Linked DNA regions of Homo sapiens: regions 1, 3 and 4 are each linked to region 2. The links come from fine-mapping of genetic effects on gene expression. A gene starts in region 2. Each other region holds a variant in brackets. All regions are shown on one strand. Distances are from middle to middle.

The links. PIP is the estimated chance that this variant, and not a neighbour inherited with it, causes the effect.
Region 1: its variant is the best candidate, but not a certain one, in a credible set for the expression of GPATCH2L in whole blood (INTERVAL, PIP 0.60).
Region 3: its variant is the best candidate, but not a certain one, in a credible set for the expression of GPATCH2L in transverse colon (GTEx, PIP 0.88).
Region 4: its variant is the best candidate, but not a certain one, in a credible set for the expression of GPATCH2L in skeletal muscle (FUSION, PIP 0.84).

Annotation. Positions count from the first base shown.
Region 1 is chr14:76,126,570-76,134,048 of GRCh38, forward strand. No RefSeq gene overlaps it. Among named protein-coding and RNA genes, the nearest start is that of GPATCH2L, 22 kb to the right of the region's middle. RefSeq lists an enhancer at 5,033-5,532. The variant GA/G (reference allele first, on the strand shown) is at 2,947.
Region 2 is chr14:76,148,090-76,155,568 of GRCh38, forward strand. It overlaps GPATCH2L (G-patch domain containing 2 like), which reads left to right and starts at 3,833. Exons shown (of 10, transcript NM_017926.4): 1 at 3,833-3,902; 2 at 6,265-6,936. The coding sequence starts at 6,275.
Region 3 is chr14:76,217,928-76,225,406 of GRCh38, forward strand. It overlaps a transcript of GPATCH2L not described here. Among named protein-coding and RNA genes, the nearest start is that of GPATCH2L, 70 kb to the left of the region's middle. The variant C/CAGA (reference allele first, on the strand shown) is at 3,663.
Region 4 is chr14:76,234,406-76,241,884 of GRCh38, forward strand. All of the region lies in intron 2 of LOC105370575 (a long non-coding RNA gene), which reads right to left. It also overlaps a transcript of GPATCH2L not described here. Among named protein-coding and RNA genes, the nearest start is that of GPATCH2L, 86 kb to the left of the region's middle. The variant G/A (reference allele first, on the strand shown) is at 3,450.

The DNA.
Region 1 (7,479 bases), 22 kb before region 2:
AGCCATCCCAACTGAGCCCTGCCCTGCCCTGCCAACCCACAGAATCATATGTGATAAAATGGCGGTTGTTGTAAACCATGTGTTTTGGGATGGTTTGCTATGCAGTAATGGATTCTTCTTATCTGTGATCCCTAGACCCATTCCTCCCTCTGCTCTTTGCCTCCTGCTAGGGTCCAGGGGTAGGATCTCTTTCTGGAGTAGATGCACCTGTACCAAATAGAATTCCTGCCTAGGGGTGTACCAAGGATAGGTTGGGGGGTAATGCCCCACCCTGACTGCAGGCATTTAGAACTTAGAGTAACAAAATATTTTTTCAGGGAGGAGAATTTTATCACTGTCATGGTTTAGAATTACTAGCAAATGGTAATAATAAAAAGAAGACTGACTTTCAGTTGGTATTATAATTTTTTTAAGGTCCTTAAGGCAATGGATCCCCTTATTGCCAGTTCCTGGGGCAGACTGCACTCACTGTCCCACCCTTGGGGCACCACTGTTCCTAGTTCTTCCTCATGACCATATGAGCTTTGAAAAGAGAGAATTGGGAAGAGGTAAAATCTGAAAATGGCAGGAGTCCAAGGCAAGAACTACAGTAAGGGTTGTGGGGGCCCCTGTTCTATGCAGGGCTTTTGCAGGCATTGTTGCTTTTAATCCTCAAGGAGACCCTGCCTGCATTTTAACCAAGGAAGACAGGAAGGCTCTCCTGGGTGGGAGGCTTGCCTGAGTTTACAGAGCAATGAAGTGGTGGAGCTGGGGTGCAGACACAAGGCTTTTGGACTCCGGACTCCAAGACTAGCAAGGATGGAGGGAAGTATGTCTCAAAGCCTGGCACATGCTGTACAAGGCTGGGGTTATGATGGCCTCTTCCTAGTGCTTTTCTGAGACAGCTAAGAGGTTTATCCCACTTTTCACATTTACCACAAAATATGAAATCTGGCTCCCTCTTTTCCCCTTTAACAACGCATAGTGCAGTGATTAAATGGTGCTGAATGACCTGAGTTCAAATCCTAGGTCTGCCCGTATGGTTGTGTGACCTTGGACTAGTTTTTCAAACTTTTTTTTTGCCCCAGTTTCTTTTTCCATAAAGTGGGATTAACAAGAGTATTTATTGCATCAAAACTGATGGGGGACTCAAATGAATCAATATACATAAAGAACACAGATGCTGACATATATTTGTAATTACCTACAAATACAAATATGCACTACGATGGGCACTTAAAAACTTTAAAAATACTGTATTAGTCTGTGCTCACACTGCTAATAGAGTCATACCTGAGACTGAGTAATTTATAAAGGAAAGAGGTTTAATTGAGTCACAGTTCCACATGGCTGGGGAGGCCTCACAATCATGGTGGAAGGTGAATGAGGAGCAAAGTCGCATCCTACATGGTGGCAGGCAAGAGAGCGTGTGCAGGGGAGCTCCCCTTTATAAAACCATCAGATCTTGTGAGACTTACTCACTATCATGAGAACAGCATGGGAAAGACATGCCTCCATGAATCAATTACCTCCCACCACGTCCCTCCCACAACATGTGATCTACAATGCAAGATGAGATTTGGGTGGGGACATAGCCAAACCATATAAAATACTAACTCTTTTAATTCTTCCAATAATCCTATGAGGTGGCTACTATTATCATCCCCATTTAATAGAGGGGGACCCAGGACTCATAAAGGTTAATGACTCATGCAGTGTCACACAGTTAGAAAGTGGCAAGACCAAGATTCAAACCCAAGTACACCTGCCTCCCAGACATGTGCTAAACAATCTACACAGGGCTGTGCTCAGTAAATGTCAGCTGTTATAATTTTACCCAGTTTGCCTGAATAAACACCAGGGGTTGCTCTATCTCTCCACTTTTCTTCCACGGGAATTATACTAGGGACCCCTTTGCATAAGTAATCACAGGAGAATTAAAAACAGAAAAGTTGGCCGGGCACGGTGGCTCATGCCTGTCATCCCAGCACTTTGGGAGGCTGAGGCTGGCGGATCACAAGGTCAGGAGATCGAGACCATCCTGGCTAACACGGTGAAACCCTGTCTCTACCAAAAATACAAAAAAAAAAAAAAAAAAAAAATAGCCCGGTGTGGTGGCAGACACCTGTAGTCCTAGCTACTTGGGAGGCTGAGGCAGGAGAATGGCGTGAACCCAGGAGGTGGAGCTTGCAGTGAGCCGAGATCGTACCACTGCACTCCAGCCTGGGCAACAGAGTGAGACTCTGTCTCAAGGAAAAAAAAAGAAAAAACAGAAAAGTTAAAGTAGGCAGCATTTTCCACCCATCAAGTAAGTAAAATTTTAAAAGTATGGTATCATCAAGTATTGTCAAGAGTGTGAGGAAGTAATACTTTCATACGTTGCTGGTGGTACTGTAAACTGTAAATCCTCTCTGAAGGGATTGTTTGGAAGGACAATTAAAGTTAAAACCATGTATTCCTGTGATCCAACAATGTCACTTATGGGTGTCTGTCCTAGAGAACCACGTGCACAAGCACACAAGACAACACAGATATGTTTATTGCTATCATAGTTGCCACTGCACTGTGATAGCAATAAACCGGGAACAGCCTAAGTCCATTAATAGGGATGGCTTAGCCCCAAATAGAGCGAAAACCATGCAGTGGTAAACAGAATTCTGAGCAAAGAAAGTCAGTTGCAGGCTGGGCGTGGTGGCTCACGCCTGTAATCCCAGCACTTTGGGAGGCCAAGGAGGGCAGATCACTTGAGGTAAGGAGTTTGAGACCAGCCTGGCCAACATGGCGAAACCCTGTCTCTACTGAAAATACAAAAATTAGCCAGTCATGGTGGCGCACACCTGTAATCCCAGCTACTGGGGAAGCTGAGGCAGGAGAATTGCTTGAACCCAGGAGGCAGACGTTGCAGTGAGCTGAGATCGTGCCACTGCACTCCAGCCTGGGCAACAGAGTGAGACTCCGTCTCAAAAA[GA/G]AAAAAAAAAAAGAAAGTCAAACAACACATAGAAAGCCATTTATGTAAGAACAAAATATCACTGCAGCATAATAATATGTCTTTTTCTACAGGGTATGCACATATGTATGTAAGGACATAGAAAAATCATTGGAAGGTTACGCACCAACTTGCTCACAGTGATAACCTCTGGGAGAACAGGAAGAGACCAAGACTCAAGGTTGGTCAAACATTATCATTTATGTTTTATTTTTTAAATGATAATTTATTTTACTATTACTTTTATAATTAAATTTTAATATTAAAACGGGAAAAAATCAATCGGGGAATGTGGTTTTCTATAGTGTAGACCTCAAAATTAGACAAGCCTGATGTCTTAGCCCATTTGGGCTGCCATAACAACATGCCATGGCCTGGGTGCCTTAAACACCAGACATTTATTTCTCACAGTGCCGGAGGATAAGGCCCAGATCAAGGCATCAGCATCTGTCTGGTGAGGGCCTTCATGCTGTGCCCTCACAAGGTAGAAGGCAGGTGGGTGGGGCAAGAGAGAAACCAACTCCCTTCACCAAGCCTCTTTATAAAGGCGGCTAATCCCATTGACAAGGCAGGAGCCCTCCTGCCCTAATCACTCCCTAAAGGCCGCACTAGCTACTGCTGTCACATTGGCAACACCTGAATTTTGGAGGAGACACATTCAAACTGTAACAAAGAGAATGAACCTAACCAAGGTTCCCTCCCTTCTCTGTTTTTCTACCTGTGCCCAGGAAAACTCCTGCAGCCCCTCCCTCCAGCAGTTTCTCAAGGAGATAGGGAACCCAAAGGCAGGAATCTGGGTTCCTCTCAGCAGCTCCAAGGCAGATAAGCCTGGAGTCAGAATTGGAGTGTGTGTGGGCTGGCAGTAGAGAATGTGCTCTGTTGAGAAGGTGACAGCTTTATTCCCAGCACAGTGTGAGGCTCAGTGAAAGTGGGAAGGAGTGAAGAAGGGTCTGCAGGGAGAGACAGTGGTCATAGAATCTATATATGTTAGTGCAACAGAGGCCATGTGGCACAACAAGGAGAGCAGAGAGTATTTCCACCACAGAACTTTTCTTTCAAATGAAATCCTGCAGAGAAGCCCAGTGAATGACACAGACATAGGTGGAACCACTGAGGCTGCCCACTCCACCGCCTAGAGACCCTCATCAGTGACCCCTGAAGCATCTCTAGAGAACCCTCTGACAGTGCCACAGCTAAAATCCCTCCTCTCACTCAACAGTTCACTTTCCAGAAGCCTAGAAAAGAGTAGCTCTTTATCCAGGGAACTCTCCCCCTTTCCCACCCACCTTCTGGGTCCTTCATGGCCTGAGAAGTTTTGCTCGTATCTCACCCAAGTCTTCCTTTGACAAGTTTTTGACCCCCAAAAGCCTCCCTTGGACACTGGACACTTCTGGGGTGTTGGAACTGCTCTATATCTTGATCTGAGTGGTGGTTGCACAAGTTTATTCTACAATGTACAGAGCAGTGCTGGATCCAGCTCACCCTGGCTCTCATCCACTCGCATCTCTTCCAAACTCTGCATTTGGTGAGGACACGTTGCCCAGTGAACATCCCTCTGGCCCCTGCAGGGGATCCTGTGCAGGGAGCCAGCGGAGACTGAGGTTGCTCAGAGGCTAGGCTAACCAGGAGAGAGAAGACAGAAAGAAAAACCATCCGGGGATTCCAGGGAAGCCAAGGATGCCTGGGCTTTTGGGAAACAGTGACGGTCAGGCCGGAGGAAGGTGTTGGCATTGAGGAAGCCCTGGGGAATGCAGACTGTGGAAGGGAGCCTCGCTTGCCCGTCGGTGGGCTGGGCGGGAGCGCTGACCCTGGCGCCTCGGAGGAGGGAGGGGGCGGGCTGGGGAGGGGGAAGACAGCGTGACTGCGGTCTGATCTACAGTGACGAGTACCAATGTTAACTGTCACCTCTCATCTCCAAACTAAATCACACCTGGAATTGGAGGAGCCGAGGAGCTGATAGAGTCAGCCTCGCAGAGGCGACAAGTCAATCAGCGCGGAGATGCCCGCGGAGACACCGGCTCCACGGGCCGGGCGCCTCCATTCATTCTGGGATTTACACTTGTCAGGCTGCCGCCTCGGGTGGGCAAGAGGAGGGGTGGGCAGGAGGCCGGTCTCCCTTCAGCTCCACTTAAAATGGGATGACAAGCAGCTCCTCCCCAGAGGCACCACAGGCTGGGCCCATCATTCTTGATGTCCCTCCACTTCTCTCTGTCTTGTGGGTCATTCCCCCAGGTCAGTGGACTTCAGGCTCAAGGATTTGGAAGAAGCCCAGCAGTCAGCAGATGGAGACAGATTGGTGGTCTCTCGGGGCAAGGGGTATTGGCTGTTTGAGCAACCTTTGTCTGGGAGCTTGACAAGAATTCTTTCCTGGTCTCCAGGTCATCTGTTTGGGAGGGAGCAGTGGGGCCTTGTGCAAAAGGAAGGATGGAGTCAAACTACTTTGGAGCAATACTGTCGGTGGTCAGATGAAATGGAAAAGATCGTCGCTTTTTCTTTCGTTCATTTCTTTGCTCATTCAACAAATGGCATTCAGTTTGGCTGTAGCAGAGTGCTGGGGGTTTAGCAGCACTGAGCCTCCACATCCTGAAAAGGGGGAGAATTGAAGCATTTAGAACTTCTCAGGTTGCCATCTGCCACTGTCTTAGAATTACTGAATGAAACTGCAGCTCCCCCATCACTTTCCATCGCTGACCACACCATCATAATCCTCTGCACAGTCATTTATAAAGTGCTTTTTCACCTATAAACATAACTGTGCTAAGTGCTGTGCCAAGGAAAATGCCTAGAGATATACATTCCAGATGGAGGAAAGCACATTGAGGTCCCATTGCTGTTTGAACATCTATTTTACTTTTGTCACCATGAAAGTAAGAAAACTTCATTCCAGAAAATATGGAGCAATAGAAAGAGGGGAAAATCCCCTAAATACAAAGCTAGCATTTTGATGTGCTTTCTTCTAGTCTTTTCTCCTATATTTCTTTAACTTATTTTCCCAAAAGCCCCCAGCCCAGAGCATGTACTATGTCAATGAATGTGGAGTCAGGGTGGAAACCTCATTTTTCTCCTCTGACCCCATTCAGAGTGGCCCCTGAGGACATGGTTTCATTCTGCCTGGTGCCCGGACACAGCAATGGTGATACAGGCATTCGGTAGGCTGATCTCTTAATCCAGATTGGTGTAGTCCTTTGAAACTGAAAGTAGCTCCTTTTTATGTCGCCTGCTTCTCAGCATTAACTTCTCTTTGATGTAATTTTTGCTTCCGTTGCTCTCTCCCTTCATGGGTTAGATTAGTGTGAAATTGGCCTGGCTCCTCTGGAGACTGCAGTATTAAGCTTCAAATACTTGGTTCTTATTGGAAATCCTTAACCCACATCAGGGGAGAAAAGTGGCAGCATTACTTGGGAATGAGAGAGAGAGAGTGTGTGCATGCACACACGTGCGTGTGCATATGCTTACAAACGTGTGCAGGGGTGGGTGTAGACTAAGAAGGAGAGAAGCACACTGGCAAGGGGAAGGTGGGGAAGAGGAGATTGAGATTCTTCTCCATTTATTGAGTGCTGAGGATCTGCTCATCTTAATCTTAGGAGGAAGGGGTAGGAATGGGTCTTAGGGAACTTGAAAACGTGATAATAAGGGTAGAAAGCCTGTTTAATTTGCTGGCGCTCTCAGTGGAGCTGTCCAAAAGTCTTGGTGCTGAAGGGAAGAAAGAAAGGTGCCAGTGCTGGAGAAAGTAACAGGGCAGTTACGTAACCCAACCCACTTCACTGGGGTTATGTCTGCCTCTATGGGTGTGGCGCCTGGTTCAGATGTGACCTTGAATTGCACACAAGACATGGTTACCAACATTATGAGAGGACTGGCAGGAGCCACCAGTCCTGCTCTTACTTCTTGTTACTCAGGACAAGAAATTAGACTTGGCACAAAGAATGACAACTAATTAGGCCAGACTGCTGGAGGGAGGTACTCAACTGCAGGGGAGACTCACCTGGACACATGACCCAGGAGAGGGTTTCCTTCCACTTCTAAGGTATAACTGGGGGACCTCCTTCCGTGAGCGATTCTGATCAGAAGGAAGAGACTGCACCTCCTACTCCCACAGTAACACAAGCTCAGACCATCAGCCCCCAAATTTAAGTTGCCACCTGAGGACATCACTGGAGAACAGCTTCTGTTCTCCAGAACAGAGGTGGTTCTGATGGCCAACTGGCCAGAGCTGTTCATAAAGGACATAATCGCCAAACTGTATGACCACTGGAATGTTCTCAGCAAACTTCAGACTCCCCATTCAAAAACAGTTTACCTCCAGATATTTCAACCTTGTTATCAGCCAGCCTATACTTACTTTCTCCCTGCAATCCCCATCCAACTTTCTCTGCCCCACTAGCCTTGGTCTTTTCTTGTACTCTCAGCTTCTGCCTCAGTTTCTTTTCTTTCCCACAATGCCCCTTTTCCCAGCCTCAGCCATCCGTTACCCCCAGATACCATATATCTGTGACCTTTCTTTCCTTTGCTCT
Region 2 (7,479 bases):
AAGAGTGGTTACCTGCCCAGATGAGGCCAATGGCAGAGCAAAAACCAATGAGGGAGGACAAATGCAAGACTACTGCAGGAGTGCAATCTACGGGGCTTAGCACTTTGCTAGATAAAGGGGTAAAAGAAAGAAACAAGAACTAAAAATGGGTTTGAAGCTTCTCACCTGGGTAACTGCATGATGGTGGCGATATTTTCCAAAGAGTGAACAGTGGAGAAGGGGCAGGTTTGATAGAAACTATGGAAGAGGCTGGACAAGGTGGCTCACACCTGTAATCCCAGCACTCTAGGAGGCTGGGGCAGGAGGATCACTTGATGGTAGGAGTTTGAGACCAGCCTGGGCAACATAGTGGAGACCCTATCTCTCTACTAAAAATTTAAAAATTAGCTGGGCATGGTGGCATGTGTCTGTAGTCCCAGCTATTTAGGGTGCTGAGGTGGGAATATTACTTGAGCACAGGAGGTCAAGGCTGCAGTGAGGTAATGATCATGCCACTGCAGTGTTCTGTCCGTAGGTGTACCATCATTTAGTTAACTAATCCCTGTTGTAGAATTTCTGACTTTTTCTACTTTCCTCAATCCTCCCTCAGAAATGCTGCAGAGAAGAATTTAACCTGTATCTAACATTTTTGAGCCCATTTCCAATTTTTTTTTTTTTTGAGACATGGTCTCACTCTGTCTTTCATTTCACAGAGACCCTGTCTGGGAAAAAAAAAAAAAAAAAAAAGGAAAGGAGAGAGGGAAGAAAGGAAGGAAGGAAGAAAGAAACTGTGGAAGAAACTAAGCTTTATTTTTGACATTTTATTATATTTACTTATTTATTTTTGAGACACGGTTTCACTCCTGTCACCAGGCTGGAGTGCAGCAGTGTGCTCTCAGCTCACTACAACCTCTGCCTCCTGGAATGAAGTGATCCTCTTGCCTCAGCCTTTCCAGTAGCTAGGATTACAGGCGCCCACCACCACACTTGCCTAATTTTTTGTATTTTTAGTAGGGACGGGGTTTCACCATGTTGGCCAGGCTAGTCTCAAACTCCTGACCTGAAGTGATCCACCCGCCTCAGCCTCCCAAAGTGCTGGGATTACAGGCGTGAGCCACTACGCCTGGCCTATTTTTGACATTTTAAATTGGAAATGCTGGTGAGGTGAACAAGTGGAGCTATCTAGTAGAAAAATGAAAATATAAGTTGGATTTCAAGAAATTTGGGAGCTTTCAGTGCTGATGCAGGCAATCAACACCGTGGGAACAGATGTGATTTGTGGGAGAGAATTTTCACTTATGCAGAAAAGAGGCCTAAGGCTGTGGACACCTGTTGAACATTTCCATATTTCTGTCCTGTGGGAGTCACAGATTCAGCATGTCCAAAATGGAATTAATCATCTTTCCACTAAACCCGTTTATCTTCTTGACTTCTCTAGCTGTGCAGATGGCACTGACCATTGTCTTAGTTGCCCTAGCTCAAAACCTCAGCTATCTTTGTCTCCTACCTTGACTTTTTTTCACCTATAGAACATTCTGAAAATCCACAAAAAACAATAGATAGGAGATATAATCATTGATAATGAAACCATTTCGGATATTGTATGGTGGCTTCTTCTGGTCATATTCCTTTGCGAGTATAGATTTAATTTCCTTTGTATGGGAATCATACTCTACATTTTTAGAGTAATCTTTTTATTGAAGTATAACAGTCATGCAGAAATGTACACAATCATAAGTCGATGGCTTTTCATGTCATTAAATATTCTTTTGCAACATTAATTTTTAAAAGTTGCAAGATATTCCACCCATAGATGTACCATAATTTAGTTAACTAACCCCTGTTGTAGAACTTCTGGCTTTTTCTAGTTTCCTCATCTCTCCCTCAGAAATGCTGCAGAGATGATTTACCTATATTTAACATTTTTGCGCCCATTTCCAATTTTTCCTTAGAATACAATTCTTTGGGGCAAAATTTCAGGGTCCAAGGTATGTGCATATTTTTAAATAAACTTTTTTATTTTAGGATAATTTTGGGTTTAGATAAAAATTATGAAGATTGTTACAGTTTCTGTGTAATTCACACTTTCTCCTATTATTCACTTTTTTTTTTTTTTTTTGTGACGGCTGAGTCTCACTCTGTCGCCCAGGCTGGAGTGCAGTGGCTCGATCTCTGCTCACTGCAACCTCCGCCTCCTGGGCTCAGGCGATGCTCTTGCCTTAGCCTCCTGAGTAGGGACTGGGACTACAGGCATGTGCCACCACACCTGGCTAATTTTTTGTATTTTTAGTAGAGACGGGGTTTCACCATGTTGGCCAGGCTGATCTCGAAATCCTGACCTCAGGTGATCCGCCCACCTCAACCTCCCAAAGTGCTGGAATTACAGGTGTGAGCCACCACACCAGGCTATTCACTCTTACAGAAGTATAACACATCTCACAATTGCAACCAATATTGATACGTTATTATTATTATTATTATTTTGAGACGGAGTTTCACTCTTGTAGACCAGGCTGGAGTGCAATGGTGCGATCTTGGCTCACTGCAACCTCCGCCTCCCAGGTGCAAGTGATTCTCCTGCCTCAGCCTCCCGAGTAGCTGGGATTACAGGCACGTGCCACCATGCCCATGTAATTTTTGTATTTTTAGCAGAGACAGGTTTTCACCCTGTTAGCCAGGATGGTCTCAATCCCCCAACCTCAGGTGATCCGCCTGCCTCGGCCTCCCAAAGTGCTGGGATTACAGGCGTGAGCCACCTCACCCGGCCCGATACATTATGATTAACTAAAGTTGATACTTTATCCAGATTTCCTTAGTTTTTACCTAATGTTCTTTTTTCAATTGCAGCGTCACACCCAGGACACCATATTACATTGTCATGCCTCCTTAGGCTCCTCTTGGCTCTGAGTTTCTTAGACTTCCCTTGCCTTTGCTGATCTTAACAATTTTGAAGAATACTGGTCATGCACTCTGCAGAATGTCCCTCAATTCGGGTTTGTCTGATTTTTTTTTCTTATAATTAGACTGGGTTATGAGATTTGGAAGGAAAGTACCATAAAGTGCCATTCTCATCATATATCATTCCACATACTATCAACATGATTTAGCACATAGTCTTGATCACCTGGCTGAATTACTGTTTGCCAGGTTTCTCCCCTGTAAAATCACTCATTTTCCCCTTTACAGATGTTGTACTTTTGGGAAGGAAGTCACTATGCACAGCCCACATTTAAGGAGGCAGAAGTTATGCTGCAGGATGGCTGTCTACATAAGTTATTTGAGATTCTTCTGTGGGGGATTTATCTCTTCTTCCTCATTCGTTAATTTATTCAATCACTTATATCGGCATGGGCTCATGAATATTTCTTTTGTACTTTGAGTTATAATCCAATATCACTTGTTTTATTGCTCAAGGCAATTTGAAATGTTCTGAGTAACTCAGTGCAAAACAACCTCTTCCAAAGGTTGTACCAGCTCACAGGGTAGACGTCATTAAGATCCATTTCCCCTCAACTTCACAGACCCATTAAAAAGGTCAGAAAGCAAGAGATAAGCTGACATCCCTGCCTAGCGCCCAATTTCTGGAAGCCCCTAAGGAAGATGAGGCCAGCATGCAGGGGTCTTTCCCCACGTGGGGCACCTCAACCCCTGAGACGCCCTTTCCCGGCCAGACCCTATTCAACACCCCTCCTTGTCCCCTGCCCCATCTCCTGGCTTCCTGTGGCTCCGCCCACCGCGGGGCGGAAGTGGGTGTGGCCACGGGCGGAAGCACTGGGTCAGGGGCCCAATCGTGCAGCCAGCCCCTCCCACTCGCCACCGCCCCACCCCTCCGGCCCAGACCGGAAATGAGGTCAGAGAGGGAAGCCCCGGCGGTGAGAGTCGGCCCAAAAAGCGGCGGCCGTTGGAGGTGGCTGCGGCAGCTGGTGAGGGGGAGGAATGGGTTGAGAGTGTTGGGGTCCTGGGGGCTAGTACCAGAGGGGATCGGAGCGCCAAGCCGCGGCTGAGCGGCTAAGGGCGTCTTGGGGCTGCGGCAGACGGCCGGAGGGTGAGGGTGGTGGGGCCTTGCTTTTCAGGGCCCTTGTCCCCATCCCTGGGGATGTGGGTCGGGCCGTCTCCGGGGCCACAGCCCCCTCTTCCCCTTTCTTCTTTCTGCCTCTCTGGGGCGGGCTGCAGCCTGAGGGCTTGGTGTCCCGAGCCATGGTCGCCCCAGCCCTCAGGGACGGGCCGGGGCGTGGTGGAGAGTCCTTCGAAACACAGTTTTTGTCATATATGTGGCCATGTTGCGACCCCCGATCCCGGAGGGAGCTCAGTCGCCAAGACTTGCATTTTGGCAGTTTCTGCCCTAGAAGAGCCGATCCCCGCCCCTCGTGAGCCCAAATGAGCAGTTGCCTCCTGCCTCTCCCACCTCCTACTCCGCCCCTCACTTCCACCCTGCTCCTGTCTCTCTTCTTACTTGCTGTCCACCAGCTACCCGTTCCTTCCTGTGCGTGACTCAGCCTCATCTCTGCCCGGGTGCGTGCCTGGCCGCCGGGTCCTCTCGAGAGTGTGCATCCGCGACTGGAGATGGGGAGTTCTAGGGTTCTTTTGTCACTACTGTTGGAATTACAGGCTTTGAGGCAGGAAAGGATTCTGCACAGGCATTCGACTGCAAGTTGTTTGATGACTTCGTTCCATGTTCAAGTTTGTGCTGTTCTGCCTGAGGTTTTTATTTGTTCTTTTGTTTTTGTTTTTTGTATTTTTGTTGCCTGAGTTTTTAAAGCAGTAATTCTTTATTAGGGAAGTAGATTTTGACATGCTGTTCCCACTTGTTTCTTTATTTTGGTCTTAGGGACAGTTGTCTCCCAAACCTCAATCATGGCATTTTAATCCACTTTTTTTTTTCCCATTTTTTCCCCTTCTTTTCACAGGTGTTGATAAACCACTTCTTAATGCTTAAAAGAACTTGGTCTTGTTTAAATGTATGTGCTTTTGGACACTTTGAGAAGCTTCGTTTGTATGGTAGTTTTGGAAGTAGGTGTCACTATTGCTCCTACAGGTGTGGCAGATAAGCCAGAGGACTGTTTTCCTGTCTTTAAGTTCATTGGCATAGGCACAGCATGAAAATAGGTTTTAGAAAGCCCTTTGCAAAGTGAAAACTGAATGAATGGGAATATGGTCAGAGAGTGGCACCACTTAGAATTTTAAGCTGATCTTGAAATACTTTGGGCATAGAGGCAAGAGAAAAGTGCTAAAAATTTAATATGTATTTAATTAGATGCTGTACAAATTAAATATTTCCCCTTAAGGGGGAATTTTGAAGATTGCTCCTACTACTGTCATTTCTTGAAATGTTTGTCTCTGAAGTGACCCCTGAAGTGTGATGTTTGGTTTGAGGATGAACAGAAAAATAAGAAATTTTGGAAAGCAGTTTGGCCAGAAATCTTAGAAACTTCACCCTATCCCTGTCATTTCAGCTGCTATTGTATCCTAGTTTTCTGTGATTGTGTGGCACTGAAGCACATAACTAGGACCAACATTTATTTTCTGGAGGGTAGGAGAGGGGCTTAAAAATTGTTAATTATTCAAAAATATATGACATACTGTATAAGGTTCTATACCTGGTAGCTTCCAGGTGGTAGTTGGTACCAGAATGGGCGCAAACTTAGTCTCTTCTCCATTCTGACTTCAAACCTGGGTCACTACAATTTCTTGGATCACGAAAACTGCATTCTTCCTTAAATGGTGTCACTAAGTTGTCTTTCTGTTTCTTTCTGCCATGGTCATTGTCAGCAGTGACCCCAGGCCAAAGAACAGTTTTTCATTCATTCTCAATACCTCGATGAGACCATGTGCTACTCTGTGTTTCCACAACTCTAGTGTGATTTTGAAGTTGTATGTTTTTCTGTTCCTGTCTAGTGAGACAGTCTCTAATCTTTCTGGATCTCATCATTAGGTAATTCAATGACAAGTTTAATTGGGGAAAAGAGAGAAGGATCTAGTCCCCCGAATTTGTTTTGGGTCCTGTCCCAGTTGTCTTCTGGTTAGTAGGTTTTTGTGCTTAAGAATATGTTGACTTCAGGCATTTAACAAGGGACAAAACATCTATTTTTAGTGACTTAAGGAAGTGGTAGGAACAGAATCTAAGTGTAGCCAGATGAAAGGTGACTTATTTTGTTTAGACAGGCAGAACTGTGGACTACCATGATCTGTTTCATCAAATTATTCCAAAACAACAGATCCTTTTTCAGGCTTTCTTTTTCTTTTTCTTTTCTTTCTTTCTTTTTTTCCTAAACTTCCTTTTGGCAGATGTGGCCTCATGGATGAGCTGGTACACGACTTAGCCTCAGCCTTGGAGCAGACATCTGAGCAGAATAAGCTTGGTGAACTGTGGGAGGAGATGGCGCTGAGCCCCCGACAGCAGAGGCGGCAGCTTCGGAAACGCCGAGGTCGGAAGCGTCGTTCTGACTTCACTCACCTGGCAGAGCATACCTGCTGCTACAGCGAGGCCTCTGAGTCAAGTCTGGATGAGGCCACTAAGGACTGTCGAGAAGTGGCTCCGGTGACCAATTTTAGTGACTCTGATGACACAATGGTAGCCAAACGACACCCAGCTCTCAATGCCATTGTCAAGAGTAAGCAACATTCTTGGCATGAATCTGACTCCTTTACTGAAAATGCACCTTGTCGACCACTCAGGCGCAGGCGGAAGGTGAAGCGAGTGACATCAGAGGTGGCTGCTAGCCTTCAGCAGAAGCTGAAGGTGTCAGATTGGAGCTATGAGAGAGGCTGCAGGTTCAAGTCTGCTAAGAAGCAGCGTCTGTCCCGCTGGAAGGAGAATACTCCCTGGACCTCATCAGGCCACGGATTGTGTGAATCAGCAGAAAATAGGACTTTCCTAAGCAAAACAGGAAGGAAAGAAAGGATGGAGTGTGAAACAGATGAACAAAAACAGGGCTCTGATGAGAACATGTCAGAATGGTGAGATCTCCCTTACTAAGTCAAAGATTTTCCTGGTTAATTTTTCCCAAAGTGCACATCCATGGTCTTAGTGGGTTCTACCTTCTTTCAAACCAGCCACTCTAGTATTGACTTTGAAGCCTTCCTTGAATCAATCAGTAGTTTAGCTTTTTAAGGTACCATTCATGAGTCTATTTCCCTCTGTCAGGAAGGCTATATGTAATAGAAACACAGTTGTTTCTAAAAACTGTTTAAAACGCGTACCTCAAATGCAAAACTAATAATTTTATTTTAAAAAACAATTTGCTGCTTATTATGCCATACAGTTTATACATAAATATTGTTGTTTAGAACTCAGGTCTCAGCAGAGGCTGGTGTGTGTGTGTGAGAGAGAATATGCTAGCGCCAGGTATACGGAGTTTATAAATGTTCCATTAAGTTGCCTGTCCTCATTAAGAATCATGGCTTTAGATGCTTTTTGGCTATAATTCTGTTTTCTGCTACTTGTGGTTTGATTATATTGAATTTATTTTTTTATGGCTGACATTCAAATTGTCTGAACAC
Region 3 (7,479 bases), 70 kb after region 2:
CAAAAAGCTAAGAAGTAATGGTGCCAGGATTTGAACCCAGTCAGACTGGCTCTAGATGAAAGACTAATTTACCATGGCTAAATGAGGCTTATTTCAGGAATGCAAGGATCATTTAATATTAGGAATAGCTGGGTGTTTCCTTAATGTGATAAAATATATTTATCTCATCCAAAGCCTGCGTCATGCTTAATTGAGAATACCAGAAGCAATTTCATTGAAGTCAGGAACAAGAAAAAGATGTCCACTAATTATCACTATTATTTAAAAATGTTCTGTAAGACTTAGGCGAAACAATTAAGTGAAAGAAATTAAAGATACAGAAATTAGAAGAGAAGAGAAAATTATAATTTTAAGATGATACTGAGTTTTTTACTTAGAAACTAAAGAAGACTAACCAGACCTTACAAAATAAGAATTTAATAAATTAATTTTCAGAAATCAATAGCTTTTATAGATACAATGTCTAATTTCAAGCTCTAAGGGAAGAAAAGACCCATGTTGTAATAGCACAAAACATAAATGATAACATAGGAATAAACACAAGAAATATTATTTGTAGAAAATGTTAAAATGCTAATGAGAGATGAAACAAGACCCAAACAAACGGGAAGATACACCACGTTCTCTCATAGAAATACGCAGCATCATAAAGATATCACTTCTCTCGATTTACAAATGTAATGTGATCTTCAATAAAAATACCAATAGAATTGAAAAAAATTATATAAATTAATTCTAAAGTTCATATTAAAAAAAGATAGAGGGAGACTACTAGATATTAAAATTTATACATCTACAGCAATTAAAACAGAGTAGTAATAATTTGTGAGTAGTCATACAGATGAGTGGAACAGAACAGTTCAAAAATAGATCTAAATACTTACGAGAATTGAGAATATGATAAAGATGGCTTTTCAATCAGTGGAAAAAAGATTAGTCAGCAAATGGGGTGGGAACTCCTAGGTAGGGCTCTGGTGAAAAAAGTTAAGTTGGATCTATACTTCACCTCTTATACCAGGACAAATTACAGACAGTCTAAAGATTTAAACGTAAAAAATAATAATTTTTCTAAAAGTACAAAAAAAAAAAAAAAAAGGAAAGTTATTTTATAACCTAAGACTGGGGAAGGCCTTTCTAAGTATGACACAAAACCCAGAAGCCATAAAAGAAAAGATTGCTGGATTAGACTTCACAGAGAGAAAACATTTCATCATGGCAGTAGCACCATAAGCAAATGCAAATGAGAACTTGGGCAAGAAATGTGTAACTCTGCCAAGATGAGGGCCTAAGTTATCTAAAATAGAAAGAGTCCCTATCAATAAAAAGGAAAACACATTAGCAATCCAGTATAAAAATGGGCAAAGGAGATTAACAGAGACATGTAATAGAAGAGAAAATACAAATGACTTTGAAGCATACGAAAATGCTTAATAATAGAAGTTTTTCACCTACCAAAAATAATAAAGTTTGTTAACACGCTATAATGGCAAATGTGTAGTTAAATAGATGCTCTCATACATTGTATAAACTAGTGCCAAGTATAAAGAGTTGGCAGTATCTTATTAAAATTACAAAGGTTCATTACATTTTTAAACCCAGCAATCCTAGGAATTTGTCCTACAGATACAATTGTATCTATACATGTGAAATAACGTATGTCAACATAAAAATGTATAGAAAGATGAATCTCTAAGTAAAAAGGTTTTATTGGGGAGTAATACACAAGATGTGGGATTGCAATCCAGGTCATACATACAGACAGACCCAGGTGTCCTCCAGTATGTCCAGAGAAAAGGAAAAGGTTAGGGTTTTACTGGGGAAAGAGGAGGTTATACAAGTCGTTCTGAAAGAAAGTCATTGGAGGGGATAGTGTCTTTTGGGAGCTGGCAAGTGCTGATTTGTGAGTGGTGGCAGTTATTGGGTGAAATTTGTGATCTTAAAATTATGTTTTGTTTGATTGGCCTTGCATATGAGTCAATGTGTCAGGCAAGTGTTCTTAGAAAAGTGATTAGCTGCCCTGCTGTCCTTGTGTGACTTAAGTTGGTAAGCTTTGATTCGTTTCTGTTATCAGGCAAATCGTGCATGAAATCCCTCCTTTCATAGCCTTCCCTGGCTCCACGTTGTCAGGGTTTGACACAAGTGACTCCATTTTGAATCTGACAACTTTTGCATGAGCAGGACTAACCATTAGAATTCACCAGAGGTTAGTCAGCTTCAGTCCTCACACAAGGAAGGCAATTACACAAGGCTTTAATACCAGGAGGTTGGTCATTTGAGGTCATCTTAAAGAGGCTGCCTAACACATGGGTAAATATTTTAAAAACCTAACTATATCTGGCTTTCAAGAGGCATACTTTGAGTGTTAAGAGAAAAATTGAAAGTAAAAGGATGATAAAAAACACACCAACCAAGAAAAGGCTGATATAGCTATACAAATATCAGTTGAGATAAATGTAAGTCAAGAAGCATTACTAAGGACACAAAGGAACATTTCATAGAGATAAAAAGATAAATCTACCAGAAAGATAGAGTTTGTATTTTAATGCAACTAATAATATAGCTTCAAAATATAGAAAACAAAATTACAGACCTAGAAGTACCTGATAGTACAAGTAGTGATTAATAATATGGATGATTACAATAAAATGAATAATAAATTTAACCTAATTAATGTCCATAGAATACTATAACCAGCAGTGTCAGAAGAGGTATTCTTTCCAAGCACCCATTGAATTTTTACCAGAATTTATCATATGCTGGTCTTTAAAGTAAGTCCCAACAAATTCCAAAGGGTAAATCACCTAAAATATGTTCTCTGACCAAAGTGAAATTACTCTAAAAATCAATTTTTTAAAAACCCCAGCAGAGCCTGAAATATTTAGAAATTAAACATTACAATTCTAAATTATTGATAGTTCAAAAATAAATTGCAGTAGATGTTAGACAATATTTGGAACTATATGGCAATTTTTAAATGACATCAAAACTTGCATAAAAAAGGCTAAAAGTCAGTCTAAGTACGCATCTCAAAAAGTAGAAAAAGGATAGCAACAAACCCAGAGATTGGTTCTCTGAAAAGACTAATAATATTGATAAACCTCTAGCAAGACTGATTTAAAAAAAAAAAAGTCAAAAAAATGAGAACATAAGCCCCAGGCTGGGATAAAATGTTTGCAAAAGACACATCTGATAAAGGACTGTTATCCAAACTGTAAAAAGAACTCTTAAAACTCAGCAATAAGAAAAAAAAAAAAGCCCTAAATTAAAAAGTGGACAAAAGATCTGAACAGACACCTCACCAAAGAAGATATACAGATGGAAAATAAGCATATGAAAAGATGCTCATCAGAATAAAATAATAATGAGATGCCATGACATACCTATTACAATGGTGATTTTCCAAAACACTGACAACACCAAATGCTGGTGAGCATGTGGAGCAACAGGAACGCTAATGGGAATTAGCTAATGGGCATGAAAAATGGCACAGCTATGATGAAAGACGGTTTGGCAGTTTCTTGCAAAACTAAGCATGCTCTTACCATACAATCTAGCAATGATGCTTCCTGGTATTTATCCAAATGAGCTGAAAACTATGTCCACAGAAAGACTGCACACAGATGTTTATAGCAGATTTATTTGTAATTGCCCAAGATGTCTTT[C/CAGA]AGCAGGTAAATGGATAAACAATCTGGTACATGCAGGCAATGGAATATTATTTAACTCTAAAAAGAAATGATCTATCCAGCCATGAAAAGAAATAGAGGAAATTTAAATGCATATTGCTAAGTGAAAGAAGCCAATCTGAAAAGGCTACCTACAGTATGATATCATCTATATGAACAGGCAAAATTATGGGGACAGTAAAAAGATGAATTGTTGCCAAGGGTTAGATGGGAAGGAGAGGTGAATAGGCAGAGCACAGAAGATTTTTAGGGCAGTGAAAATACTCTGTATGATACTACAATAATGGATAAATGCCATTATACATTTATCAAAACCCATAGAATGTATAACACTAATAGTGAACATTAGTGTATCAACTATGGACTTTGGATGATAAAGATGTGTAACTGTTTTATGATAATGTGTTGATTGTAACAAATGTATCACTCTGGTGAGGAAGGCTGTGCATGTGTGGGGGAAGAAGGTATATGGGAATTCTCTGTACTCCTGCTCAATTTAGCTGTGAATCCAAAACTACTCTAAACTCTATTTTAAAAATAGAAAAAAGGCACAGATTACCAATATAAAACCCCAGAAAAAGCCTGGGATTTTTTAAAACCCCAAACCTTCATATTCTAAGAATGTAATATGAAGAACTTTCTGTCAGCAAATCAGAAAATCCTCATGAAATGGAATTTCTAGGAAAATACAATTTACCAGCTCAAGAGTAAATAGAAGGCTGGGCATGGTGGCTCGTGCCTGTAATCCTAGTTCTTTGGGAGGCCAGGGTGGATGGATCATTTAAGTCCAGGAGTTCAAGACCAGCCTGGCCAACATGTAAAACCCCGTCTCTACTAAAAATACAAATAATTAGCTGAGCGTGGTGGCGTGCACCTGTAATCCCAGCTACTCAGGAGGCTGAGGTGGGGGAATCACCTGAGCCAGGGAGGTCAAGGCTGCAATGAGCTGAGATGCTGCCACTGCACTCCAGCCTGGACAACCGGAGTGAGACCCTGTAACAACAACAAACCCAAAAGAATAAATAGAAAATTTGAATTGTTTATATCTGTTTAAGAAGTTGAATCTGGGCTGGGCACAGTGGCCCACGCCTGTAATCCCAGCACTTTGGGAGACTGAGGCAGGTGGATCACTTAAGGTCAGGAGCTCAAGACCAGCCTGGCCAACATGGTGAGACCCCATCTCTACTAAAATACAAAAATTAGCTGGTCGTGGTGGCATGCTCCTGTAATCCTAGCTACTCAGGAGGCTGAGGCATGAGAATCGCTTGAACCTAGGAGGTGAAGATTGCAGTGAGCCGAGATCGCACCACTGCACTCCAGCCTGGGCAACAGAGTGAGACTGTGTTCAAAAAAAAAAAAAAAAAGAAAGAAAAAAAAGTTGAATCTGTAACTATAACTTTCCCACAAAAAAATCCCCAGTCCAGATTTTTTTCTTCACCAGCAAATTCTTTTAAACATTTAAAGAATTGACACTAGTCTTATACAAACTGTTTGAAATAATACAAAAAGAAAAATAATTCCCAATTCACTTTGAGGCTACCATAATTTTAATACCAAAGGGTGGCAGGTTCATTACAAGAAAGGAAAATTATAGGCCACTATATCTAATGAACATACTTATAAATATCTTAAAGAAAATATTAGAAAGTAAAGTTCAGTGAATTATTTATTTTAGGAATGCAAGATTTTGGCTTAACATCACAAAATCAGTGTTTTCAACCCATTCAACTGGATTTATTTTCAACAAACTATCTGGGACAACTGGATATCCACATGCGAAATAATGAAGTTGGATCCCTCTTTATACAATATGCAAAATTAACTAAAAACATATCAAAGACCTACACATAAGGGCTAAAACTAGAAAACATTTAGAAGAAAACAAATGCATAAATCTTCATGACCTTGGATGAGGTAATGGTTTATTAGATATGACACCACATGCACAAGCAACTGAAGAAAAAATAGATAAATAAGCCTTTATCAAAATTTAAAATTTTTTGCTTCAAAAAGACACTGTCAAGAAGATGAAACGACGACCACAGAATGGGAGAAAATATTTGCAAATCATATATTGGATAAGGGTCTGATATCCAGAATATATAAAGAACTCTTATGACTCAACAACCAAAAGGTAAACAATCCAATTTAAAAATGGGCAAAAAGACTCGAGTAAGCATTTCTCCAGAGAAGATGTAGGCATGGCCAACAAGCACACGAAAAGATGCTCAACATCATTAGTCACTGAAGAAACACTGAAACTACAAGATGCCACTTTACACCCATTCCTAGACAGTTAAAAACTTATGTACCCCCAAAAGCTTGTACACAAATGTTCATTTTAGCCTTATTTACAATAAACTAAAAGTGAAAACCACCCAAGTACCTATCAACTGATGAATGGTAAACAAAATGTGGTATATCTGTACAATAAAACATCATTCTGCCATGAAAAGACTGAAGTACTGATTCATGTGGCAACATGGATTAACTTTGAGAATATTATGCTAATTGAAAAACACCAGACAGAAAAGGCCATATTCCACTTACATGAAATGTTCAGAATAGGCAAATCCATAGAGACAGATATTGCAGACAGGCAGTAGATTAGTAGCTGCCAATGGGAAAAGGGGAATGGGGAAGGACTGCTAGTAGGTATGAGGTTTCTTTCTGCAGTGATGAAAATGTTCCGGAGTTATATGGTAATCATTGCACAACTTTGTGAATATACTAAAAACCACTGAATTGTACTCTTTAAAATGATGACTTTCAAGATATACGAATTATGTTTCCATTTAAATATTAGTGTATTTCACTACATTAGCATCGTAAGGCAGAAAAAATATCTCAATAGAATGATGCAGAAAAAGCATTTGATAAAATCAAATACTTATTCATAGTGAACACTTAACACACTAGGAATAGAAGGAAACATCTTTAAATTGGTAAAGATCAGTAAAAATCTTACAGGAAATATCATAGTTAATAGTGAAATATTAAAAGCTTTCACCTTGAGATTAGGAATATTTCCTAATACTATTTCTATTAAACATTGTACTAGAGATCTTAACCATTGCAATAAGGCAAGGAAAAGAAGTTACAGACTGCAAAGCATATGATTGTTTATGTAGAACATCCAAAAGAATCTATGGTCAATTAAATTTATTAGAAATAAGTAAATTTGGCAAGGCTACTGGATTCACGTTTACTCTACAAAAATCAATGATATTTTTATATATCTGCAATATTCAGTTCAAAAATGAAATTTAAAAATATTTACAATAGCATCGAAGACATAAACTGAGAATAAATCTAATGAAAGATGAGAAAAAATCTTTACATGGAAAGCATTACAGAGGAAAAATAAAGAAGGTCTAAATAAATGGAGAGATCTGCTGTATTCATGAATTGAAAGCCTCAATATTGTAAAGATGTCAGTTATTTTCCAACTGGTCTACAGAGTTAATGCAATTCCAGTCAAAATCACAGCAGATTTCTTGGGGGAAATTAAGCTGATTCTGAAACATGGAAACATTAGAGACCAAGAATAGAGAAGAGAGTGTTTAAAGAACACAGCTGGAAGACACACTGCTAGCTATCAAGACTTCTTATAAAGTTACAGTAATTAATACCATGTGGTATTGGTGCAAGAATAAACAAATAAAACAGTGAAACAGAACAGAGTCTAGAAGCTGATCCACACACATAGTCACTTAACTGAGGACAAAGGTAATGATGTAGTGCAGCAAGGAAGGGATGACCCGTTCAATATATGGTGCTGACTCAGTTGGATATTCAC
Region 4 (7,479 bases), 86 kb after region 2:
CTCTAGCCAATAGGATGTGGCAAAGGTGATGAGATGTTATGCCCATGGTTATGTTATAGAAGAGTCTGTCTTGTTATCACTCTCTCTCTGTCCCTCTCCCTGTTACTGGCTTTGAAGGAACAAGCTTCCATGAAATAAATGGCCATATTGGAGAAGCCCAAGTGGCAAGGAACTGTCAGCAGTCTCTAAGAGCTGAGGGTAGACTCCAGCAAGAAACTGAAACCCTCAGTCTGACAGCCACAAGGAAATAAATTCTGCCAACAACCTGAAGAAGCTTGGAGCAGATCTTTCCTCAGTTGAGCCTCTGATGAGACTGCAGCCCGAGCTGTCACCTGGATAGCAGCTGGTGAAACCCTTCAACAGAGAAACCAGCCAACCTGTGTGTAAACTTCTGACCTGCAGAAACTGTAGATAAAGAGTGTGTGTTATTTAGAACTGCTAAGTTTGTGGTAGTTAAGCAGCATAGAAAATGAATACAGTAGGCCAGGAGTGGTGGCTCACGCCTGTAATCCCAGCACTTTGGGAGGCCGAGGCCAGCAGATCACCTGAGGTCAGGAGTTTGAGACCAGCCTGGCCAACATGGAGAAACCCTGTCTCTACTAAAAATACAAAATTAGCAGGGTGTGGTGGTGCATGCCTGTAATCCCAGCTACTTGGGAGGCTGAGGCAGGAGAATTGCTTGAACCCAGGAGGCGGAGGTTGCGGTGAGCTGAGATCACGCCGTTGCACTCCAGACTGGGCAACAAGAGCGAAACTCTGTCTCAAAAAAAAAAAAAAAAGAAAAAAAGAAAATGAATACAGTAGACATTCACCAAACTATATTGAATTGAATGACTGATATGGTTTGGCTGTGTCCCCACCCAAATCTCACCTTGAATTGTAATACTTTCCACATGTTAAGGGTGGGGCAAGGTGGAGATAATTGAATCATGGGACAGTTTTCCCCATACTGTTCTTGTGGTAGGCTTAACTCGAATAAGTCTCATGAGATCTTATGGTTTTATAAATGGGAGTTCACCTGGACAAGCTCTCTTGCCTGCTGCCATGCAAGACACGCCTTTGCTTCTCCTTTGCCTTCTGCCATGATTGTGAGGCTTCCCCAGCCATGTGGAACTATGAATCCATTAAAACTCTTTTTCTTTACACATTACCCAGTCTTGGGTATGTTTTTATTAGCAGTGTAAAAATGGACTAATACAATGACTAAATATGAAGGCTAGTTAAGACCTGATCAGACACTGTGCTTTTAGCTGAATGAGTCCTCCAGCCATTGACCAGATGGTTGAACTTCACTATCCATTGTTTCTGAGGTGGTTTTGTGACCCACATCAGCACTAATTGAGTTGGTCAGGCCCTTCCTCCAGCCAGGCTGATTGTGGCATTCTCTGACAGTTGCTTTACCCCCTCTCACCTTCCCCCATGATCTCCTTGCAGCCTGCCCACACTGGCCTTAGGGTGACTTTCTGGAGAGGCAAGCATCTTCATGTGAGACCTGCCAAAGGGTGTATACCTTCTCAAAAGACCCTGCAGTTTCTTCTCCAATGTGGACAACGCTGAGCATATGATCTTTCGGTGTCTATCTGCACTTTCTTTGACCTGTGAGTATTTCTGTTTATGGTGTAATTTACTTTCTCCTCTCCACATAGCTTCTCCAGTCTGATTTCTCAATGGTTGTAAATTGCTCCCAACAAAAAGCTTTAGAACATAAGCATTCAGTCTTGAGCTGAGCCTGTGTGGTCACTGTGCAGATCTGTCCACCCTGGGACACTCCCTGGTGCCCTCCCACCGTGCAGGGACAGTTCTCCCTTTTTGTCTCCATGGCCCATGGCTTCACAAACCCTCTGTTCTCTCTCTAATGTTCTCTCTGTCACCTCCCCTTTCCTAGCCTGGGTGTTTGAAAACAATCATTGTCAGAATATGACATTTAATCTGTTTTCAGTTTTTATTGTAAAAAGAGGAAGCGAAGACTAGCGGTAAGATGCAGATGACTAATGAAAGAATTCCTCACAGCTGTTCAGGGATATATATTTTTTTCTGTAGTGGAGCGAGACAGATTCCCATCACAGCTCGGGGACTCGTTCCGTGAAGCCCCTCATCTGTCATGCTCTGGGGGTGAAGGGGGCAGTGGAGAAATGTCATTATGGATGTAACTGGACTCAGAAGTGACTGGTCAAGGTTGGCACTGCAGTCCTGATGGAGCGGCTTATGGAAGTTTTTCTGGGAGGCACTGCTGGCTGGTGGAAAGGGCAGCTCCAAACACCCCTGCTTGTGGTTGATTCCCAGGTTCCGTCCAATCAGACCACCTTAGAGCTGGAATAAGTCCCTCCAACATAGCTATCCAAGGAAAATACCCTTCTACCCATTCCAAACCAGATAGGATATCAAAACAAGTATTTTCTCAGGTTTTGCACCAGACCTGAACAGGTGCTCTAATCATCTGTGCTGATGCCACTGGCCCATCTCTCTGGGAACTCTGAGCAGAGTGGAACCAGGGTGGTCTGGATCTGTGCCTGGTGCATTACACCAACAGGGAGGAATGCTTGGATCCGTGGTGCCTGCATCAGGCTGGCCAATCCTGTGTGGATACTGATTAGTCTCAAAGCGAGAATGCTAAGGAAGACAGAGATCAGCCCATCTTATAAGACACAGATTCTACTGGGCGCTGTGGCTCACGTCTGTAATCCTAGCACTTTGGGAGGCCAAGGTGGGTGGATCACCTGAGGTCAGGAGTTTGAGGCCAGCCTGGCCAATGTGGTGAAATCCTGTCTTTACTAAAAATACAAAAATTAGCCGGGTGTGGTAGTGGGCACCTGTAATCCCAGTTACTCAGGAGGCTGAAGCAGGGGAATCTCTTGAACCCGAGAGGTGGAGATTGCAGTGAGCTGAGATTGCACCGCTGCACTCCAGCCTGGGCAACAGATCGAAACTCCGTCTCGGAAAAAACAAACAAAAAAAACAAAAACAAAAACAGCAACAACAAAAAAAAACAAGAAAACACAGATTCCTTCTCCCTACTGCCTTTTCCTAACCCCAGGAAACAACTTGAGCAAAGAGCTTTTCAGTCACTAATAGTTGTCCTTCCCCTTTCTGCTCCTGCCTTCAGGCTTGTTCACTCACCCTCCACCAGAGGCAAAGAAGCTGCCCCGCAGGCACTGCCTACAGCATCAGTGAGCCCCCTTGGGCTTCTCCACCCGACTGGACCCATGGCTGTCATGCCTTGACTGCCCTTCCTCCCAGGTTTCCAGTTTGCTTGGGGAAAGAGCCTTTCTCCGTATTTCCTTATTGCCAGCCTCATTCCTAAAAGGATTTGAAATGTCTGACAAAAGCACAAATGTGCAGCAAAGGAGGACACCCAGGCAGGGGAAATAAAGGCAGGAAATGTGAGGCAAAGCCACGTGAGGCTCTCATACAAAAGGCTGATTGATATTCACTTGCTAATTTGATTCTGC[G/A]TTTTCTTGAAAGAAGGAAACATAATCAACAATTCCCTTCACAGTGTCCATGAGATAAAAGCAAACGAGTTGTTTGGGAGAAAGTTCTGAAGTGCCAGATGCATCTCTGGTGGGATGCTTATTCTTTTAAGGATGTGAGCAACACCCTCAATCATGATGAGTTTTATGAGCCATACAATTATTAAAAATTTTTAACTTTCTTATTAAGATTCCTGTGAAGATCACTGGCATTTGAATTCTGATTGTCTTTAGAAAGACTTTGTGTCTTATGAAATCATGTTTGAAAACACGCTGTATTTTGTCCTTTTTCTTCCTCCTCCCTCTCCTATTTCTCTGCTCTGTCTCTCCCCTTTCCCATTCTCTTCCTCACCCTTCTTTCTTTTGTTTGAGACAGGGACTCGCTGTGTCACCCAGGCTGGAATGCAGTGGTGTTCACTGCAACCTCTACCTCCCAGGTTCAAGTGATCCTCCCTTCTCAGCCTCCCAAGTAGCTGGGACTGTAGGTGCATGCCTGGCTAATTTTTGTATTTTTTGTAAAGTTGGGGTTTCACCATGTTGCCCAGGCTGGTCTCGAACTCATGGGCTCAACGGATCTGCCTGCGTTGGCCTCCCAAAGGGCTGGGATTACAGGCATGAGCCATTGTGCCCAATCCTTACCCTTCTTGAAAGGACACTACACATTTTCCACTTTCAGGGGTCAGGGAGTTTGGGCTCTGGTACTTACTCTATGAACAGTTGTCTATGCCATTCATTGTGCTATGTGTGTCCTGTGTCTGGATCTGTCTGTGCGATTTCTGTGCTGGTGTGTTTATGCATGAACAAGAATAAGTGAAAGTATCCAGCCGAGCTACTTTACTGAGTTATGATTAAATTACATGCAATAAGCTGCGGGTAGGACTTTTTTTTAAAGCAGTGTTTCTCAAACTCAAGCATGTTTTAGAATCTCCTTAAAAGTTTGTTAAAACACAGATTGCTGGGCCTCACCCTAGAGCTGCTGATTTCATAGGTCCAGGTGGGACTGAGAATTTGCATTTCTAACAGGGTTCTAGGTGGTGTGCTGCTGTTGGTCTCAGTGTCGCTGTTGCTGTCAGTCTTGGTATCATGGAGAACCACTGTTCTAAAGAAACTTCCTTTCCTTTCCCTTAAACCATCCTAGGTTGGACAACCAGTTGTGGTCCATTTGGGAGCTCCCATCTCATTAAAAAATGAGAACATCCTGAGCCAGACAAAGATGCTCTTTGTACTTTTAGTTTCATTCTGAACCCAAGCCAGAAATCTACCTAAGCAACTCACGTGGGAGTCATGAGGAAGCAAATATTTAGACTTTACGAGCATGCGCATTCTATACTGACCAGTGTTGAATTTTTCCACGATTTTCATTTGGGCAAAGTACTATGTGTTACAATCAACCAGGTGGTACTTCTCAGATGCCTGATAATGTTCTGAAAATTAGAGAGATAAACATTATCCTGTGTGACAAATACAGGTATGTCAGTACAGGCTGGCTGAAGATCTGATTTGCTGGGTGAAAGCTCCTTTCCCAACTCTTTCACCTGAAACTAAAAGTTCTTGCTAGTGAGCATCCATTTTGGCCAGAGTGTGGCTACATCACCAACCCAAAAGGGTTTAGGGAGGACAGGGAACAAGATTTCATAGCTGCATAATACCAGGCATTCCCAGAAGTGCTTTGCCACCTTTGCTGGTATGTCTTCTGTGGCTTTACATGTGCCAGGTAAGCTGACAGCAGAACATCAGTATCCACTTGTTGTGGTTTTAAAATATGTTCACATATACAGTTGAAAGCATTCCTTCTGAGAACTGGAACAAGACAAGGATGCCCGCTTTCACCACTTCTATTCAACATAGTGCTGGAAGTCCTAGCCAGAGCAATCAGACAAGAGAAAGAAATAAAGGGCATCCAAATTGGAAAACAGGAAGTCAAATTGTTGCTGTCAGCCAATGATGTGATCATATACCTAGAAAACCCTAAAGACTCATCCAAAAAGCTCTTAGATCTGATAAATGAATTCAGTGAAGTCTCAGGATACAAAATCAATGTACACAAATCAGTAGCACTGCTATACACCAACAATGACCAAGCTGAGAATCAAATTAAGAACTCAATCTCTTTTATGACAGCTGCAAAAAATTAAAATACTTAGGAATATATATATATTTTTTTAATTTTTAATATATATTGTGCCACTGCACTCCAGCCTGAGTGAGAGAACGAGACTCTGTTGAGACACTGCTGGAGTGCAGTGGCACAATCTCGGCTCACTGCAACCTCCACCTCCTGGATTCAAGTGATTTTCATGCCTCAGCCTCCTGAGTAGCTGAACTACAGGCATGCGCCACCACACCTGGCTAATTTTTGTATTTTTAGTAGAGACCAGGTTTCACCATGTTGCCCAGGCTGGTCTCAAACTCCTGACCTCAAGTGATCTGCCTGCCTCAGCCTCCCAAAGTGTTGGGATTATAGGCGTGAGCCACCGTGCCCAGCCCCTGACTTAGGAATATACTTAACCAAGGAAGTGAAAGATCTCTACAAGGAAAACTATGACACACTGAAATCATAGATGATATAAACAAATGGAAACACTTCCCATGCTCATGGATGAGAAGAATCAATATTGTGAAAATGACTACACTGCCCAAAGCAATCTATGGATTCGATACAGTTCTCATCAAAATAATATCATTCTTCACAGAACTAGATAAAACAATTCTAAAATTCATATGGAACAAAAATGATCCTGCATAGCCAAAGTAATACTAAGCAAAAAGAACAAATCTGGAGGCAACATACTACCTGATCTCAAATTACACTACAAGGCTATAGTTACCAAAACAGCATGATACTGGTATAAAAATAGGCATATAGACCAATGGAACAGAATAGAGAGCCGAGAAATAAAGCCAAATACTTATATCCAACGGATCTTTGACAAAGCATACAAAAACATAAATTGGGGAAAGGACACCCTATTCAATAAATGGTGCTGGGAAAACTGGAAAGCCACATGTAGAAGAATGAAACTGGATCCCCATCTCTCACCTTATAGAAAAATCAACTCAGCATGGATCAAAGACTTAAATCTAAGATCTGAGACAATAAAAATTCTAGATAATAACATCAGAAAAACTCTTTTGGACATTGGTTTAGGCAAAAAATTCATGGCTAACCCCCCAAAAGCAAGTGCAACAAAAATAAAAATAAATAAATGGACCTAACTAAACTAAAAAGCTTATGCACAGCAAAAGAAATAATTAGCAGTGTAAATGAACAACCCACAGAGTGGGAGAAAATATTCACAAACTATGGATCCAACAAAGGACTAGTATCTGGAATCTACAAGGAACTCAAATCACCAAAAAACCCCCCAAATCATCCCATCAAAAAGTGGGCAAAGGACATGAATACATTTCTCAAAAGAAGATATATAAACAGCCAACAACTGTATGAAAAAATGCTCAACATCACTCTTCATTAGGCAGATGCGAATTAAAACCACAATGAGATACCACCTTACTCCTACAAGAATGGCCATAATTAAAAAGTCAAAAAACAATAGATGTTGGCATGGATGTGGCAAAAAGGGAATACTTTTACACTGCTGTTGGGAATGTAAATTGGTACAACCACTATAGAAAACAGTGTGGAGCCTCCTTAAAGAACTAAAAGTATATCTAGCATTCAATTCAGCAATGCCACTACTGAGTATATACCCAAAGGAAAAGGAGTCATTATATGAAAAAGACACATGCACACGCATGTTTATAGCAGCAAAATTTGCAATTGCAAAGGTAAGGAGCTAGCCTAAGTGCCCACCAGTCAAGGAGTGGATAAAGAAAATGCGGTATATATACACCATGGACTACTACTCAGACATAAAAAGGAATGAAATAATGTCTTTTGCAGCAACTTGGATGGAGCGGGAGGCCATTATTCTAAGTGAATTAACTCAGGAATGGAAAACCAAATATTGTATGTTCTCACTTATAAGCAGGAGCTAAACTATGAGAATGC